Regions from separate parts of the Homo sapiens genome. Here region 2 is linked to region 1. Evidence: fine-mapped expression QTL. Tissue or cell type: sun-exposed skin. Region 1 holds a variant in brackets; the other region holds the start of a gene. All regions are shown on one strand. Distances are between the middles of the regions.

What was found. PIP is the estimated chance that this variant, and not a neighbour inherited with it, causes the effect.
Region 2: it holds the start of MRPS7, and the variant in region 1 is fine-mapped to the expression of MRPS7 in sun-exposed skin (GTEx, PIP 0.98).

Annotation. Positions count from the first base shown.
Region 1 is chr17:75,464,398-75,472,496 of GRCh38, reverse strand. It overlaps TMEM94 (transmembrane protein 94), which reads right to left. Exons shown (of 32, transcript NM_014738.6): 2 at 568-697. The coding sequence starts at 591. Among named protein-coding and RNA genes, the nearest start is that of TMEM94, 12 kb to the right of the region's middle. RefSeq lists silencers at 181-270, 3,650-3,818. The variant G/A (reference allele first, on the strand shown) is at 4,139.
Region 2 is chr17:75,257,420-75,265,518 of GRCh38, reverse strand. MRPS7 (mitochondrial ribosomal protein S7) reads right to left here and starts at 3,640. Exons shown (of 5, transcript NM_015971.4): 1 at 3,536-3,640; 2 at 2,831-3,022; 3 at 2,652-2,715; 4 at 2,012-2,179. The coding sequence starts at 3,618. GGA3 (golgi associated, gamma adaptin ear containing, ARF binding protein 3) reads left to right here and starts at 3,913. Exons shown (of 17, transcript NM_138619.4): 1 at 3,913-3,971. The coding sequence starts at 3,932. RefSeq lists enhancers at 2,854-3,731, 3,528-3,937, 4,408-4,507.

The DNA.
Region 1 (8,099 bases):
GCAGTCTTTGTCAAGGGAGAGGAGTTTTCTGATTGACAACTCTACCTCCATCCAAAGATAGTATACATGGAGGCTGGGCCAAACCAGGCTGGGAGGAGAAGACCAATCTTATGGCTGGCCCAGGCCACCTGGCTGCTCACCACCGGCTGATTAGGCAGCTGTGTTTGAAGTCTGATTGGGGCGCTCTTCTCTAACCACAGGGAGGTGCCCAATAGCCCTCAGCATGGCTCAGCAGGTTAGGACATCGCCCTAGCAAAGGGCAAACAAACTAAATTGCACACCCCTGGGCAAGAAGTGGAAGACTGGCTTGGAGCCAGCCTAAATCAGAAACCCTGCTCCCATGCGGTTGTGTTAATAGGTCCACCTTCATCCTTTATTCATAGCTCTGTGAGTCTGTGCTTTCCAGCCAAGAGGTCACAGTCGCATCCCCCAAGACTCAGAGCCTTGCCTCCTCTCTCAACTTTTGTTTAAAGCCCCCAGTTAAGGATCTCCCAGGCAAAAACAAGTAGGAAAGAGTTCAACAGAGACACACAGACAATACCTATAAGGTAATAGGATATGGCCTACCAGGTGCTTCTCCTTCAGGTCCATGGGCCAAGAGTACTGCAGGCATGCCCAGATGAATGTGGTCACCCCTGAAAGGAAGGCTCCTCCCCAGCATGTACAAACCCCAGTGAGTCTGTCACAGTCACAACATCTGGGGAAAAAGAAGAAAGAAATCACTCAGGTTGCTGGAACAGGCAGCTACTGTGAAACACAACAGCATCATTTTTTTTTTTTTTTGAGACGGAGTCTCACTCTGTCGCCCAGGCTGGAGTGCAGTGGCGCGATCTCGGCTCACTGCAAACTCTGTCTCCTGGGTTCAAGCGATTCTCTTGCTTCCGAGTAGCTGGGATGACAGGCGTGCATCACCATGCCCAGCTAATTTTGTATTTTTCAGTAGAGACAGGGTTTTGCCATGTTAGCCAGGCTGGTCTCAAACTCCTGACCTCAAGTGATCTGCCCGCCTCAGCCACCCAACATAATAGTATCATCTAAACCACAGTATGGTACGCGGAAAAGTACTGAACTCACTGACCATCAGACAGAGTCAGCCTCATCGAGCAGCAGAGCTTCCCCCAGGCAGTCAGCTCTAGATGAATTCCACTCTCTGAATCCAGGAGGGAGAGGGCTACAGAGAGGATTCTGGAGGGGTACAAACTTTCTCTCTTTCACCCTTCATTTTCTTTCTTTCTTTCTTTCTTTTTTTTTTTTTTTTGAGACGGATTCTCACTCTGTTGCCCAGGCTGGAGTGCTATGACCCGATCTTGGCTCATTGTTGCAACCTCCACCTCCTGGGTTCCAGCAATTCCCTGCTGCAGCCTCCCAAGTAGCTGGGATCACAGGCACTTGCCACCACGCCCGGCTAATTTTTGTATTTTTAGTAAAGACGGGGTTTCACCATATTGGCCAGGCTGGTCTTGAACTCCTGACCTTGTGATCCACCCGCCTCAGCCTCCCAAAGTGTTGGGATTACAGGCGTGAGCCACCGCGCCTGACCTTCATTTTCTTTATTATTATTATTATTATTATTATTTTGAGACAGAGTCTCGCTCTGTTGCCCAGGCTGGAGTGCAGTGGCGCAACCTTTGCTTACTGCAACCTCCACTTCCTGGGCTCAAGTGATTCTCCTGTCTCAGCCCCTCAAGTAGCTGGGATTACAGGCATGCACCAGCATCCCCGGCTAATTTTTGTACTTTTAGTTGAGACAGGGTTTCACCATGTTGGTCAGGCTGGACTTTTTTTTTTTTTTGAGACAGAGTCTCGCTCTGTCGCCCAGGCTGGAGTGCAGTGGCGCGATCTCGGCTCACTGCAAGCTCCACCTCCCGGGTTCACGCCATTCTCCTGCCTCAGCCTCCTGTGTAGCTGGGACTACAGGCGCCCGCCACCACGCCCGGCTAATTTTTTGTATTTTTAGTAGAGATGGGGTTTCACCGTGTTAGCCAGGATGGTCTCGATCTCCTGACCTCATGATCCGCCTGTCTTGGCCTCCCAAAGTGCTGGGATTACAGGCGTGAGCCACCATGCTCAGCCAGGCTGGTCTTGAACTCCTGACCTCAAGTGATCCACCTGCCTCGGCCTCTCAAAGTACTGGGATTACAAGCATGAGCCACCACGCCCAGCCTATTATTATTTTTTTTAATTTTGTGTGGAGAAGGGGTCTTGCTATGTTGCCCAGGTTGGTCTTGACCTCCTGGCCTCAAGCAATCCTCCCCACCTCAGCCTCTTAAAAGTTCTGGGACTACAGGCTACAGGCGTGAATCACTGTGCCCAGCCTCAACCTTCATTTTCAAAGGCACACTGTGTTTTGTTCCATATGTACTCTGTTTATCACTGAATTACAGCATGCAGGAAAAGCCTTGGTTTATTGGCTTTTTTTGTTTGAGACGGAGTTTCACTCTTATTGCCCAGGATGGAGCACAATGGCATGATCTCGGCTCACTGCAACCTCTGCCTCCTGGGTTCAAGCGATTCTCCTGCCTCAGACTCCTGAGTAGCTGGGATTACAGGCATGTGCCACCACGCCCAGCTAATTTTTGTATTTTTACTAGAGACGGGGTTTCACCATGTTGGTCAGGCTCGTCTCAAACTCCCGACCTCAGGTGATCCACCCACCTCGGCCTCCCAAAGGATTTATTGGCATTTTTATTTATTATCACTACTTCTTTGGTAGAGATGGGGTCTTGCTATGTTGCTCAGGCTGGTCATGAGCTCCTGACCTCAAGTGATCTGCCCGCCTCGGCTTCTCAAAGTGCTGAGATTTCAGGCATGAGCCACTACACCCAGTCAGCATTTTAAAAATTTAGGGTTAAGGCCGAGCACAGTGGCTCACGCCTGCAATCCCAGCACTTTGGGAGGCCGAGGCAGGCAGATCACTTGAGGTCAGGAGTTCCAGACCAGCCTGGCCAATATGATGAAACCCCATCTCTACTAAAAATACAAAAATTAGCCAGGCGTGGTGGTGGGCGCCTGTAATCCCAGCTACTCAGGAGGCTGAGGCAGGAGAATCACTTGAGCCTGGGAGGCAGAGGTTCCAGTGAGCTGAGATTGCGCCACTGCACTCCAGTCGGGCGACAAAGTGAGACTCGGTCTCAAAAAAAAAAAAAAAAAATTTAGGGTTAAGGTTAGCCTTAACATCAAGTGAAATCTAGATATGTAAGTTGGATAATAAGGGGGCAGCTGGGACAGCAGCAGGGTGGATGTCCACTGCATCCCCAGAACGAGGCACTGACTTCTTTCCACGTGCTGGCAGTCAGACGCCACACTCACCAGCATGTGCAAGCCCGCAGCCCCTCACGTGGTTGAGTGCAGTGCTCAACAGGCACCTGAGCAGATGAACACACGATGGGCAGCCCAATCTGACAACAGGTCCGACAAAAGCGGGCTGGTTACCTGGAAAATGAGGTTTGCCCTACCTCCCCACCTACCCTCACCAGCCCTCACCCTCCCGTCCTGGCAGCCGTCACTCTAATGATCTCAGACCAGGGTGTGTTTGAGTAAAGAGTGACACTGAGCAATCTGGTTTGATGCCAAGCGACTCCTCTTGGAGAAAGCACTAACCTACTGACTAAGACAGCTCTTTTGGGGGCCAGGAGCAAGCCTTGTCAAGGGGTGCCAGGCAGAAACCCAGAACTGACCCAGAAAAAAGCTGTCAAGAAATAATAAAAGCTGTGTCCGGAGGACCCAACCAGAAGGCCCAGGTTCTGCCACCAACTCCACTCCAAAACCCCGCCCAATTCCTCTCAAGGTGGCACCCATGCTGGTGCCCTAGGCTGAGCAACCACGTCTCTTCCACCCCTGCCTTTCAAAGCTGAGCCAGCCTCGAAGGCTCAGATACAGACAGTGACGCTGGAAGTGGCCTTGCAATGCAGTGACATTCAGTCTTTGGTCGCCAACTGAAATGGGATCCTGAGGGACCAAATCCACTCCTCCCCAAGGCCACTGTCTGACTCAGGCTGCCCCAGTCCTGCTTACGACTGCAGCTCAAGGTCCCCATGACACCCCATCCCAGCAGGGGCTGGATGAGATCGTTGCCACACAGGGAAAAACACCAGGAGCCAGATGGGGACTGTGCCTGTTAACTCCTTCTGCCAACGCT[G/A]CAAAGGCAAAATCACTCTGTGGCCAGCTGGAACCACAGCAGTACAGAGAGGGCAGCCAGGAACAGGACATTTTTCTAAGAGTCTCTGTTTTCCCATCATTCCATACATGGGATTCTGGGAGACAGCCATTCTTAACTGTCTGATCTGAAACCCGTAGCAGGGTCTTTAAAGGGCCAGTTCTGCTCCTAGCCCATTGTGAAAAAAAGCACAGGATTCAAAGCCAAATATCCCCGGGTTCAAATCCTAGCTCCAGTATGTCTCAAACGCCAATGACCTTGGCAAATTATTTGTCCCTCTGAGCCTCAGTGTCTTTGTTCATAGAATGGAAATGACAATATCTATTTCACAGAGGAGCTATAGAATTATGAAAAATAGTATATGCAGGGGGTCTAGTATAATATTTGACATATAGTAGGTACTCAATAAACAACTGCCATTACTATCAGCAGCAAGCAAAAAATATGAACCAAGTGCCACTTAGGTGAAGAATAAGGACTCAAAAGCAAGGTGGAAGAAAAAGAAATGGGGCCGGGCGCGGTGGCTCACGCCTGTAATCCCAGCACTTTGGGAGGCCGAGGCGGGTGGATCACGAGGTCAGGAGATCGAGACCATCCTGGCTAACAAGGTGAAACCCCGTCTCTACTAAAAATACAAAAAATTAGCCGGGCGCGGTGGCGGGCGCCTGTAGTCCCAGCTACTCGGGAGGCTGAGGCAGGAGAATGGCGTGAACCCGGGAAGCGGAGCTTGCAGTGAGCCGAGATTGCGCCACTGCAGTCCGCAGTCCGGCCTGGGCGACAGAGCGAGACTCCGTCTCAAAAAAAAAAAAAAAAAAAAAAAGAAAAAGAAATGGATGGCATAATGATGGGAAAAAATAAGTGAAACTGTCTTATTTGCAGAAGACAAGATCAATTGTATATGGAGAAAATATTAGGGACTCTACAAATAAGATACTAAAACAAATAAAGGTGCAAAGCTGCAGGATATAGGGTCAAAATACAAAATATAAATATATTTCTATATACTATAATCAAATATCAGAAAATAAAAATTTTAATATCATTTATAATAGTATAAAAACAGCATGGCTGGGTACGGTGGCTCACACCTGTAACCCCAGCACTTTGGGAGGCTGAGGTGGGTGGATCACCTGAGGACAGGAGTTCCAGACCAACCTGGACAACATGGTGAAACCCCATCTCTACTAAAAATACAAAAATTAGCCAGGCGTGGTTTTGGGTGCCTGTAATCCCAGCTGCTTGGGAGGCTGAGGCAGGAGAATCACTTGAACCCGGGAGGCAGAGGTTGCAGTGAGCCGAGATCACATCATTGCACTCCAGCCTGGGTGACAAGAACAAAACTCAGTCTCAAAAAAAAAAAAAAACCTTTAGAAATTATTCTAATAAAAATATATGTAAGACCTGTACACTGCTGAGAAAAATTAAAGAAGACTTAAATAAATGGGGAAATATACAATGTTCATGGATTGGAAGGCTCAGTATTAAGATGGCAATTATCCCCTAATTTATAGATTTAATACAATTTTTTTTTTCCCACTCCTGTTGCCCAGGCTGGAGTGCAATGGCACAATCTCAGCTCACTGCAACCTCTGCCTCCTGGGTTCAAGTGATTCTCCTGCCTCAGCCTCCCGAACAGCTGGGATTACAGGTGTCCACCACCATGGCCGGCTAATTTTTTGCATTTTTAGTAGAGACGGGGTTTCACCATGTTGGCCAGGCTGGTCTTGAACTCCTGACCCCAGGTGATCCCACCTGCCTCGGCCTCCCAAAGTGCTGGGATTACAGGCATGAGCCACCATGCCCAGCCTCTCAATACAATGTTAATGAAAGTCCCAGCTGGGACTTCCATAGAAATTGGCAAGCTGATTCTAAAATTTGTATGGAAAGATAAAGGACCAAGAATAGGCAAAACAATTTTGAAAAGAGAAACAAATTCTGAGGACTTACACTACCTGATTTGAAGATTTAACATACAGCTACAGTAATCAAAACATGTGGTACTGATACAAGGAGAGGCATACAAATCAATGGGACAGAACAGAGAGTCTAGCACTAGATTCACACATATTGACCCTTACTTCATACCATATACAAAAATTAACTTAAAATGCATCACACATCTAAACATAAAGGTTAAAACTATAATACTTCCAGAAGAAAATATGCAGGAGGGGTGGAGGCAGGAATCTTTATAACTTGGGATAAGCAAAGATTTCTTAAAACATAAAAAACATAAACTATAAAAGACAGCAACTTTAGCCAGGTCTGGTGGAGCACGCCTGTAGTCCTAACTACTTGTGAGGCTGAGGTAGGGGAATCACATGAGCCTAGGAGTTGAAGGTTACAGTGAACTATGATTGTGCCACTTCACTCCAGTCTAGGCAACAGAGTAAGATCCTGCCTCTAAAAAACAAACAAACAAATAAAAGAAAACAACTGATAAATTGTTCCATAAAAATAAAAAAAATTTCCACTCTTCAAAATATGCCATAAAAAAATTGACGTTGGGCACAGTGGTTCATGCCTATAATCCTAGCACTTTGGGAGGCTGAGGCAGACAGATCACTAGAGGCCAAGAGTTTGAGTCTAGCCTGAGCAACATACCAAAATCACGTCTCAAAAAGCAAAAGTAGTTTTGAAGTCTTTGGGATTAAAAAAAAATATATATATATATATATATATATAAAAATTCTTATAGCTCAGTAACAAGACCAACAACCCAATTTTAAAATGAGCAAAGATTTCAGCCAGGCATGTTGGCACACACCTGCAGTCTTAGCTACTTGGGAGGCTGAGGCAGGAGGATCACTTGAGCTCAAGAGTTGGAGGTTGCAGTGAGCCATGATCTCGCCACTGCACTCCAGCCTGGGCAACAAAGTGAGAACTTGTCTTAAAATAAATAAATAAATAATAAACAGGCAGAGATTTGAACAGACATTTCACAAGATATATAAACAGTCAATATGAATATGAAAAGATGGTCAACAACATTAATTATTGGGAAACAAAAATTAAAACCACAATGAGAAGGCCAGGCATGGTGGCTCACGCCTGTAATTTCAGCACTTTGGGAGGCTGACGGGGGAGGATGACTTGAGGCCAAGAGTTGGAGACTAGCCTGGGCAACATAGCAAGACCCTGTCTTACAAAAAAATTTAAAACCACAACGAGAGACCAATACACACCCATTAGAACGACTAAAATGAAAAAGACTGAGAATATGGCTGACGCAGGAGGATCTTGAGACCAGGAGTTCAAGGCTGCAGGGAGCTATGATCACGCCACTACACTCCAGCCTGGGAAACGGAGTGAGACCCTGTCTCTAACAACAACAACAAAAAGAGCCGGGTGCAGTGGCTCATGCCTGTAATCCCAGCACTTTGGGAAGCTGAGGTGGGTGGATCACCTGAGGTCGGGAGTTCAAGACCAGCCTGACCAACATGGAGAAACCCCATCTCCACTAAAAATACAAAAATCAGCCGACTGCACCTGTAGTCCCAGCTACTTGGGAGGCTGAGGCAGGAGAATCGCATGAACTCAGGAGGCGGAGGTTGCAGTGAGCTGAGATCATGCCATCGCACTCCATCCTGGGCAACAAGAGTGAAACTCCGTCTCAAGAAAGAAAGAAAAGAGGAAAGAAAGAAAGAAAGAAAGAAAGAAAGAAGGAAGGAAGGAAGGAAGGAAGGAAGGAAGGAAGGAAGGAAGGAAGGAAGGAAGGAAAGAAAGAAAGGAAGGAAAGAAAGAAAGAAAGAAAATGAAAAAATACACAGGGATAAGGGGCCAAAATGGAGAGGCTCTGAGGAGTCACTGAAGAGTCTGGGTTTCTGAGTAGGCCCCAGGTTTGTTTGTTTGTTTGTTTGAGACAAGGCCTCACCCTATTGCCCAGCCTGGAGTACAGTGGTGCGATCACAGCTCACTGTACCTCAACTTCCCAGGCTCAAGT
Region 2 (8,099 bases), 210 kb after region 1:
CATAAGAGGCGTTCATTCAGCAAATACTAATTAAGCACTGGCCTCTCCCGGCACTGTGGTTCACACCTGTAATCCCAGCACTTTGGGAGGCTGAGGCAGGAGGATCGCTTGAGCCCAGGAGTTCAAGACCAGCCTCGTCAATATAACAAGACCCTGTCTCCATATATTAAAAAAAAAAGAAGGCCAGGCACGATGGTTCACGCCTGTAATTCCAGCACTTTGGGAGGCTGAGGCAGGTGGATTACCTGAGGTCAGGATTTCGACACCAGCCTGGCCAATGTGGTGAAACCTCGTCTCTACTAAAATGCAAAAATTAGCTGGGCGTGGTGGCAGGCGCCTGTAATCCCAGCTACTTGGGAGGCTGAGGTAGAAATGCTTGAACCCAGGAGACGGAGGTTGCAGTGAGCCAAGAATGCACCACTGCACTCCAGCCTGGGCAACAGAGCGAGACTTCGTCTCAAAAAAAAAGAAAAAGAAAAAGAAGAAAAGCACTGGCCATTTTCCCTCCTAAATGGTAGTCCTACCAAGTTGTTATAAGAACCAAATAGGAAAAGCCCCATTAGCTGGGGTGACTAATCCACCTCAGACCATAGGTACCTAAAAACAAGACCCCTTCAGTCTTCAGACACAGCAAAACCCTGTCTCTACTAAAAATACAAAAAAATTAGCTGGGCATGGTGGCGGCCACCTGTAATCCCAGCTACTTGGGGTGGGCAGGGACTGAGACAGGAGAATCTCTTGAACCCGGGAGGCGGAGGCTGCAGTGAGCCGAGAGCTGAGATTACAGCACTGCACTCCAGTCTGGGCAACAAAAGCGAAACTCCATCTCAAAAAAAAAAAAAAAAGTTAAAAACAAAAAGACCCTATACAAACAGTTAAAGAAAACCAAAAACAAGACCCCGTGTCCAAAAATCATTTGTCAGGCCCTCACTATGCGTCAGTACCATGCCAGACACGAGAGTGCAGACAATAATGAAGTCCCTACCCCATGGAGTTGATATTGAAAAAGGAGAACACAAGAAAACTCAGGACAATAAAATATAATTAAATGCTATGAAAGAGATACCTAGTACTGTTCAGCAAACACTGATGAAGCATCAGTTATCGGTCAAGCACTATGCCAAACACTGGCATACAAAGACAGGATATGAATAGTCCCTCGCCATGAGAATTTTACAGGTTAGGACACACAGGATGCTTGACAGAAGAAGGCGAAGGGAGGTGGGCTCCCAGATGTCACTTAGATACTTCTTCACTCTCTTCCACCTTCTGCCTATAATTTTTACGCTACAGGACTCAGATGAGTGGACCGTAACAGTCTCAATTCTTTTTTTTTTTTTTTTTTTGAGATGGCGTCTTGCTCTGTTGCCAGGCTGGAGTGCGGTGGTGTGCTCTCGGCTCACTGCAACCTCTGCATCCTGGGTTCAAGCGATTCTCCTGCTTCAGCCTCCCAAGTAGCTGGGACTACTGGTATGTGCCACCACACCTGGCTAATTTTGTATTGTTAGTAGAAACAGGGTTTCTCCTTGTTGATCTCGAACTCCCCACCTCAGGTAATCCATCCACCTCGGCCTCCCAAAGTGCTGGGATTACAGGTGTGAGCCACCGTGCCCAGCCGTTTTTTTTTTTTTTTTTTCTGAGACAAGGTTTCTCTCTCTTGCCCAGGCTGGAATGCAGGGGCGTAATCATAACTCACTGCAGCCTTGACCTCCTGGACTCAAGTGATCCTCCTACCTCAGCCTCCTGAGTAGTTGGGAGCACAGATGCACACCACCACACCTGGCTAATTTTTTTGTTTTTTTTGTAGAGACGGGATCTCCCTATGTTGCCCTGCTGTCTCTTAACTCCTGAGCTCAAGCTATCCTGCATTAGGCTCCCAAAGTGCTGAGATTACAGGTGCAATCCCACTGCACCAGCTAGAAAGCTATCAATCTTGACCCAACTCCCAAGCACCACCTATCTTGTTTCACATGTGGAGGGCCCTGCTTTCTTGCCCTGGCCATTCATTCACCTGGTAGAAACGGCCTCCCTTGAGGATGGGTACCAGCCCAATCATAGGCTCACAGTTTTTCAGTGCTTGATGGAAGATGGTGTAGGGGTTGCGTTCGATGGTTGCCTGTTCCTCTGCAGAAGCGGCATGGTACTTCTCAAACTGCTTCCTTTTCACAGCTTCCAGAGTCTGCAAAAGAATATGGTGGAAGAGGCTGCCCCAGGCTCCCTAAAGGGTTTACCCAGCCAAGCTAGTACCTTGCCCTTTACTCCCATCCTCTGGTTCTGCGCTGGCAATGCAGCTCCTCTCACAGCACATCCAAAACAAAGTTTTTAAGTGCCTCCCCCTTTGCTAGACTAGGACAGAAAGAGTGGATTGAGATTTGTGGCATGGAGGGGGTGGGGGGTGAGGTGGGGAATGGCAGTTGTTTTATTTTTTATTTGTTCCTTTTTTTTTAATTGTGTGTTTACTTCCGAAACACCAAGGAATGGCAGTTGCTGACTCTTACAGGGCTTCATTAAAGCCCGTACACATGCAGGGAAGTTAATCTGAATAATAGATACATGAATCCATTTGCTCTTAAGCTACACTGAAAGTACCAAGTACAAGGCTACGGGGTAGGGGGGCAAGAAAGATGACTGAGGAGGGAAGTGCTGTTTACCTGAATCATGAGGGATCTGGCCAGTACTTTGTTTCCTCCTATCATCATCATGTTGGTGAATTTACTTCAAAGAGAAAAGCAACACGTTTAGCTCTCCAAGGCTGTATCACAGAATCCTCACCAGAAACCCTCCCTGGGATAGTCCCAGTCCATGTAACAAGTGTTTGTTTCCATCTAACCTGATGACTGGGTCTTCAAACACAGAACTTGTTTTCCCTGCTGGAGCAGCTTTGATGAGCTGAGTCTTCTTGAGCTCCCGAACATATTTCTCCTCCTCAGTTAGCTCCTCCACTGGCTTGCGATAATATTCCTTGTCAATCAAGGGATCCTTGAATTCAGGACTATAGCGGCTCCATCTCACCTGAGTTAGCCTGGGAGGGGGGGAAAGGAGGAGGCAGGCAAAAGCTGACTCCACAAGCGAGTAGGTTTGACTTAACAATAGGCATGACTGCCAACGCGCCGACGAGGGGGAGCGGCGCGGAGACCGCGAGCTAAACCTGAGCCACAACAATTCAGGCCCTTGTCCCAAGTAGGAGGACATTCCCCAAGCAGGCGGGTAAAGTCTCCTCCTGGTCAAGTGCTAACGGTAAGGATGGGCTTGGCGCCTACACACCCATCCCAATTCACAGGCGATCCCAGATCTGAGCTCTTTAGCTGAACCGCACTTTCAGCTCCGCGTTAGAACCCTAGATCAGCCAGACTCCTTAGGCGAGAGGTAGTCACTAAACCTTCGGATTGGCGCAGGGTCACGCAGCTAACTTAGAAGCTTGAATCCAGATACTCCGGCCCCCAGGGCAATGCTCTCTCTAGGGGCCCACGCGGCCTGCCTGTGGCCCCCTTCCTTCCTCGCAGCGCCCCCCCGCCGCTGCTCGCCACCCTCTCACCCTGGAAGCTGCAAGACAGCCCGCCGCACGCCCAACGCCAGGCCCGACCATCCTCGGGCAACCTTCACTGCGGGGGCAGCCATCTTGGCTGGCCACGAGGACCCCACAAGGACTGCCCTCGGCGCGCCTGAGCGAGTGACGGGAAACGGGTGAAAAAGACTCCTCAGGGTCCTAAATCTGCGTTTCTCTCCACTGATCTGGACGTTAGAGTTTTTCACTCCGGGGTCCAAAGGGGAGCGCCAAAAGGAAACCCTTGCCCTCCCTGTATCCGTCGCAGTCTGGCGCGGCCCTCGGTGACGGCACTCACTCCTCTCAGGACCCCATGCAGGCCCCGCCCCGTCTCAGCTCGTGCAGACTCTCGCGAGTTTTGAAGCCGCGGGGCCGGGCGGCTGCAATATGGCGGAGGCGGAAGGGGAAAGCCTGGAGTCCTGGCTCAGTGAGTAGCCGCGGCCGTTTCTGCCTGCCCTCGAGCCGCTGGGCTGCCCCTGTCTTCACCCCCACGTCCCCTCCCCGGGCTCCACGGCGTCGCCTCTTGGCAGCCCACGCCCGGTCTCGCCCTCGCCGCGAGCAGCCTGCGATCACGCCCCTTCCCTATCAGGGCGCCGGGCCCCAGTCCGGCCCCCGCTTCCCTCGCTGCGGCGCGTCCTCTTGCTCTGGCGCGCGGCGGCGTGAACTCGGGCTCCTGTCGGGCACCGCAGGCTCGGGGAAAGGCGACAGCCAAGATCTTCGGGCTGACATGCTTCGGCGCTTTGGGGAGATTGTGGTGGGGTCGCCGCCCGGCGGTGACACCAGGAACCCAGCGCCCCAATCCCTGACTAAGGGAGAAGCTTCGGATTGGGGCTGAGTCTCCGGTAGTGGTGGGTGCTGCCGACTGCGTTCAGTCGCCTGGCAGCTTCAGAATTGTGACCATGTGTTGGAGAAGTGACGGCTTCGCTCAGGCAGAATGCTTGAAGTGAGAATAATATTCCAAAGAGAGCGATGATAGAGAACAGAGAGCTCTACCTTTTTCCTGCAGTGACCACAGAAGCATGGTGAAATCGGTGTCGGGAATTCCCCCCCCACACACATACATATACCCCCTTGAATATCCTAACGAGTCAGTGTTGATAGCCTATTCTGAGTAAGGCTGAGGAGCACAGTCTGAAGCTGTAGTTATAGAAGCGTATTGCTGTCATTGCACTGTGAATTACAGTGCTACGAAGGAAATGTGTGTTAACCTGGTTAGCAGGTAGTACTCTGCCTGAGGGTTAATAAGTGAACTTTCCTGTAGGCTAGACCTGGAAGCCTCCTTTAAGTGGAGAGAGAAATTGGACTGGTAATGGGATAGGTGAGATACCTAGTATTGCCTTGTTCTGAGGTCTCTTATTTAGTACTGCTTCCGGGATCTTGGAGGTGATAGCTATTTCCTCAAATTGTCTGATTTTTCCTAGTAAGAAACCCCCTTCAGGAGGTTGAGCTTCAGTTTAAAGGGGAGCATATCCCAAAAGAGAGAAAAAGTAAGATCACGTTTGCAAAATCTGCAGTTGCAGGCAGGTCATAAGGCTTCTTTATATATGGAAGTGTTCTCCAAGGAGCTCAAAGTACTTTACAGATATTCATTAAATTAGTTTACCAAGTATTCTAGCAAAGCAGGCACTACTGCCATAATTTCACAAAAAGAGGACATCCTGACTCCAGTCAAACCACTTGCCCAGAAATGCCCAACTTGCTATAACCAGAGTGGAATTAGTTTGCTTTGAAGGTATTAATATGGGTATTGAATAATTTAAATGACCTAAGCTGAGTTTAATAGGCTACATTTAGAGTTACATTTTGTTTTTGTTACTTGTTTTTGAGACAGAGTCTCGCGCGCTGTTGTCTAGGCTGGAGTGCAGGGGTGCGATCATAGCTCACTGCAGCCTTGAACCCCTGTGCTCAAATAAGTCTTCTACCTCAGCCTCCTGAGTAGCTGGGACTATAGGCACACGCCACCATGCTTGGCTAATTCTTTTGATTTTTAGTAGAGATGAGGTCTTGCTGTGTTGCCCAGGATGGTCTCAAACTCGAGTTCAAGTGATCCTCCCACCTTTCCCTTACAAAGCGCTGGGATTACACACGTGAGCTACCGCACCCAGCCTAGAGTCACATTATGAAATGAGAGGGACACACTTGGTGGGGGGGAGTCACATGGTATCTGTAGAGACATAAGCTTCACAGTTGTTACGACTTAATGTGAACTGTACCAGTTGAACAAACCAGCAGTTGGGGTTCAGCATCGTCTCAGTCAGCGTCCTTGTCACCCCACGTTTGCCTGAATTGTTGCAGAAGCCTCTGCTTGGCCCAGAGACCCAGGTCTCTCCCGTCCTCACCTCTCCTCAGTCCATTCTGCTCCCAGAAGCGCACTTGTGTTGAATCAAATCATTCCACTGTTGCCTGTAATCTGGCCTTGGTTGTTCCAGGCCTTTTTCTCTGTGGCTTCTACGTTTTCCTGCTCTACTCAGTCTGATGTTCTTGGTTTACCAATACACGTTGCTCTCCTTACCTGGAAGCCCTGCTCCCGTTTCCTCAACTAAATGCTTGAAAACCCATCTCAGATTCTCTTTTCTCACAAACCATCTCTTGATGACTTCAGTCTTCTTTCAAGTCCCACCATGATCAATCAATCAATGTTTAATGAGTACCTGCTACGTGGGGTGTTATAGGAGTTAGGAAGTTTAAGAAGATTTTGCCTTTAGTTGGATGGAGGTGATGCTGGAGTGGATGAAGAACTCTCCTGTAATCCCAGCACGTTGGGAGGCCGAGGCGGGTGGATCACGAGGTCAGGAGATCGAGACCATCCTGGCTAACACAGTGAAACCCCGTCTCTACTAAAAAATACAAAAAAATAGCCAGGCGTAGTGGCGGGCGCCTGTAGTCCCAGCTACACGGGAGGCTGAGGCAGGAGAATGGTGTGAACCCGAGAGGTGGAGCTTGCAGTGAGCTGGGATTGTGCCACTGCACTCCAGCCTCGGTGACAGAGCGAGACTCCGTCTCCAAAAAAAAAAAAAAAAAAGATACAAGGCAGTGCTAAAACGCCGGCATTCTCTTTAGGGAACTGGGGATGGGGGAAGAGATGATTCATTGAGGATACTCCATTTGAGCTAGCCATTAAATAATGGGAAAAGTTGGAAAAAAAAAAACACTAGATGGTGATGTGGAGAGAGCAAACCTGTTTGGGGCACACAGTAACAGAGGTGTTTGGGAATGAGGGAAGATAAGGCTGGGAAGTTAAGACCAGATTCTACCAAGTCTCCAATTTCCAGCCCAAGAAGTTTATTTTATTTATTTATTTATTTGAGACAGAGTCTTGCACTGTCACCCAGGCTGGAATGCAGTGGCACAATCTCGGCTCACTGCAACTTCCGTTGCTTAGGTGCAAGCAATTCTCCATCCTCAGCCTCCCAAGTAGCTGGGACTACTGGTATGTGCCACTACACCTGGCTCATTTTTGTATTTTTAGTAGAGATGGGGTTTCACCATGTTGGCCAGGCTGTTGTCAAACTCTTGACCTCAAGTGAGCCACCTGCCTCAGCTCCCTCCAAAGTGTTGGGATTACAGGCTTGAGCTACCACGCCCAGCCCAGCCGAAGAAGTTTAAATTTCTGCAGTTATCAGGCCCTCATTCCTTCTGTACTAGGTGAAATCGGTGTTTTGGTGTCTTAAGAGGCTTGATTTGATATAGGTTTCATGCGCGTCCGTGTGAAGAGACTACCAAACAGGCTTTGTGTGAGCAACATGGCTGTTTATTTCACCTGGATGCAGGCAGGCTGAGTCCGAAAAGAGAGTCAGCAAAGGGTGGTGGATTATCATTAGTTCTTACAGGTTTTGGGATAGGCGGTGAAGTTAAGAGCAATGTTTTGCGGGCAGGGATGGATCTCACAAAGTACATTCTCAAGGGTGGGGAGAATTACGAAGAACCTTCTTAAGGGTGGGGGAGATTACAAAGTACATTGATCAGTTAGGGTGGGGCAGAAACAAATCACAATGGTGGAATGTCATCAGTTAAGGCTATTTTTACTTCTTTTGTGGATCTTCAGTTACGTCAGGCCATCTGGATGTGTACGTGCAAGTCATAGGGGATGCGATGGCTTGGCTTGGGCTCAGGCCTGACATTCCTGCCTTCTTATATTAATAAGAAAAATAAAACAAAATAGTGTTGAAGTGTTGGGGCAGCGAAAATTTTTGTGGGGTGGTATGGAGAGAGAATGGGCGATGTTTCTCAGGGCTGCTTCAAGTGGGATTAGGGGCGGCGTGGGAACCTAGAGTGGGAGAGATTAAGCCGAAGGGAGATCTTGTGGGGATGTTAGAAGAAACATTTGTCGTATAGAATGATTGGTGATGGCCTGGATATGGTTTTGTATGAATTGAAAAACTAAGTGGAATAAGAGAAGGAGAAAAACAGGTATAAAAGGTCTAAGAATTGGGAGGACCTAGGACATCTGATTAGAGAGTGCCTAAGGAGATTCAGCATAGTCCTGCCAGCAAAGATTATTTATTTACTTCAAGAGTTAAGAGTGGCAGTTTGGGGATAGCACGAGGAGATATCA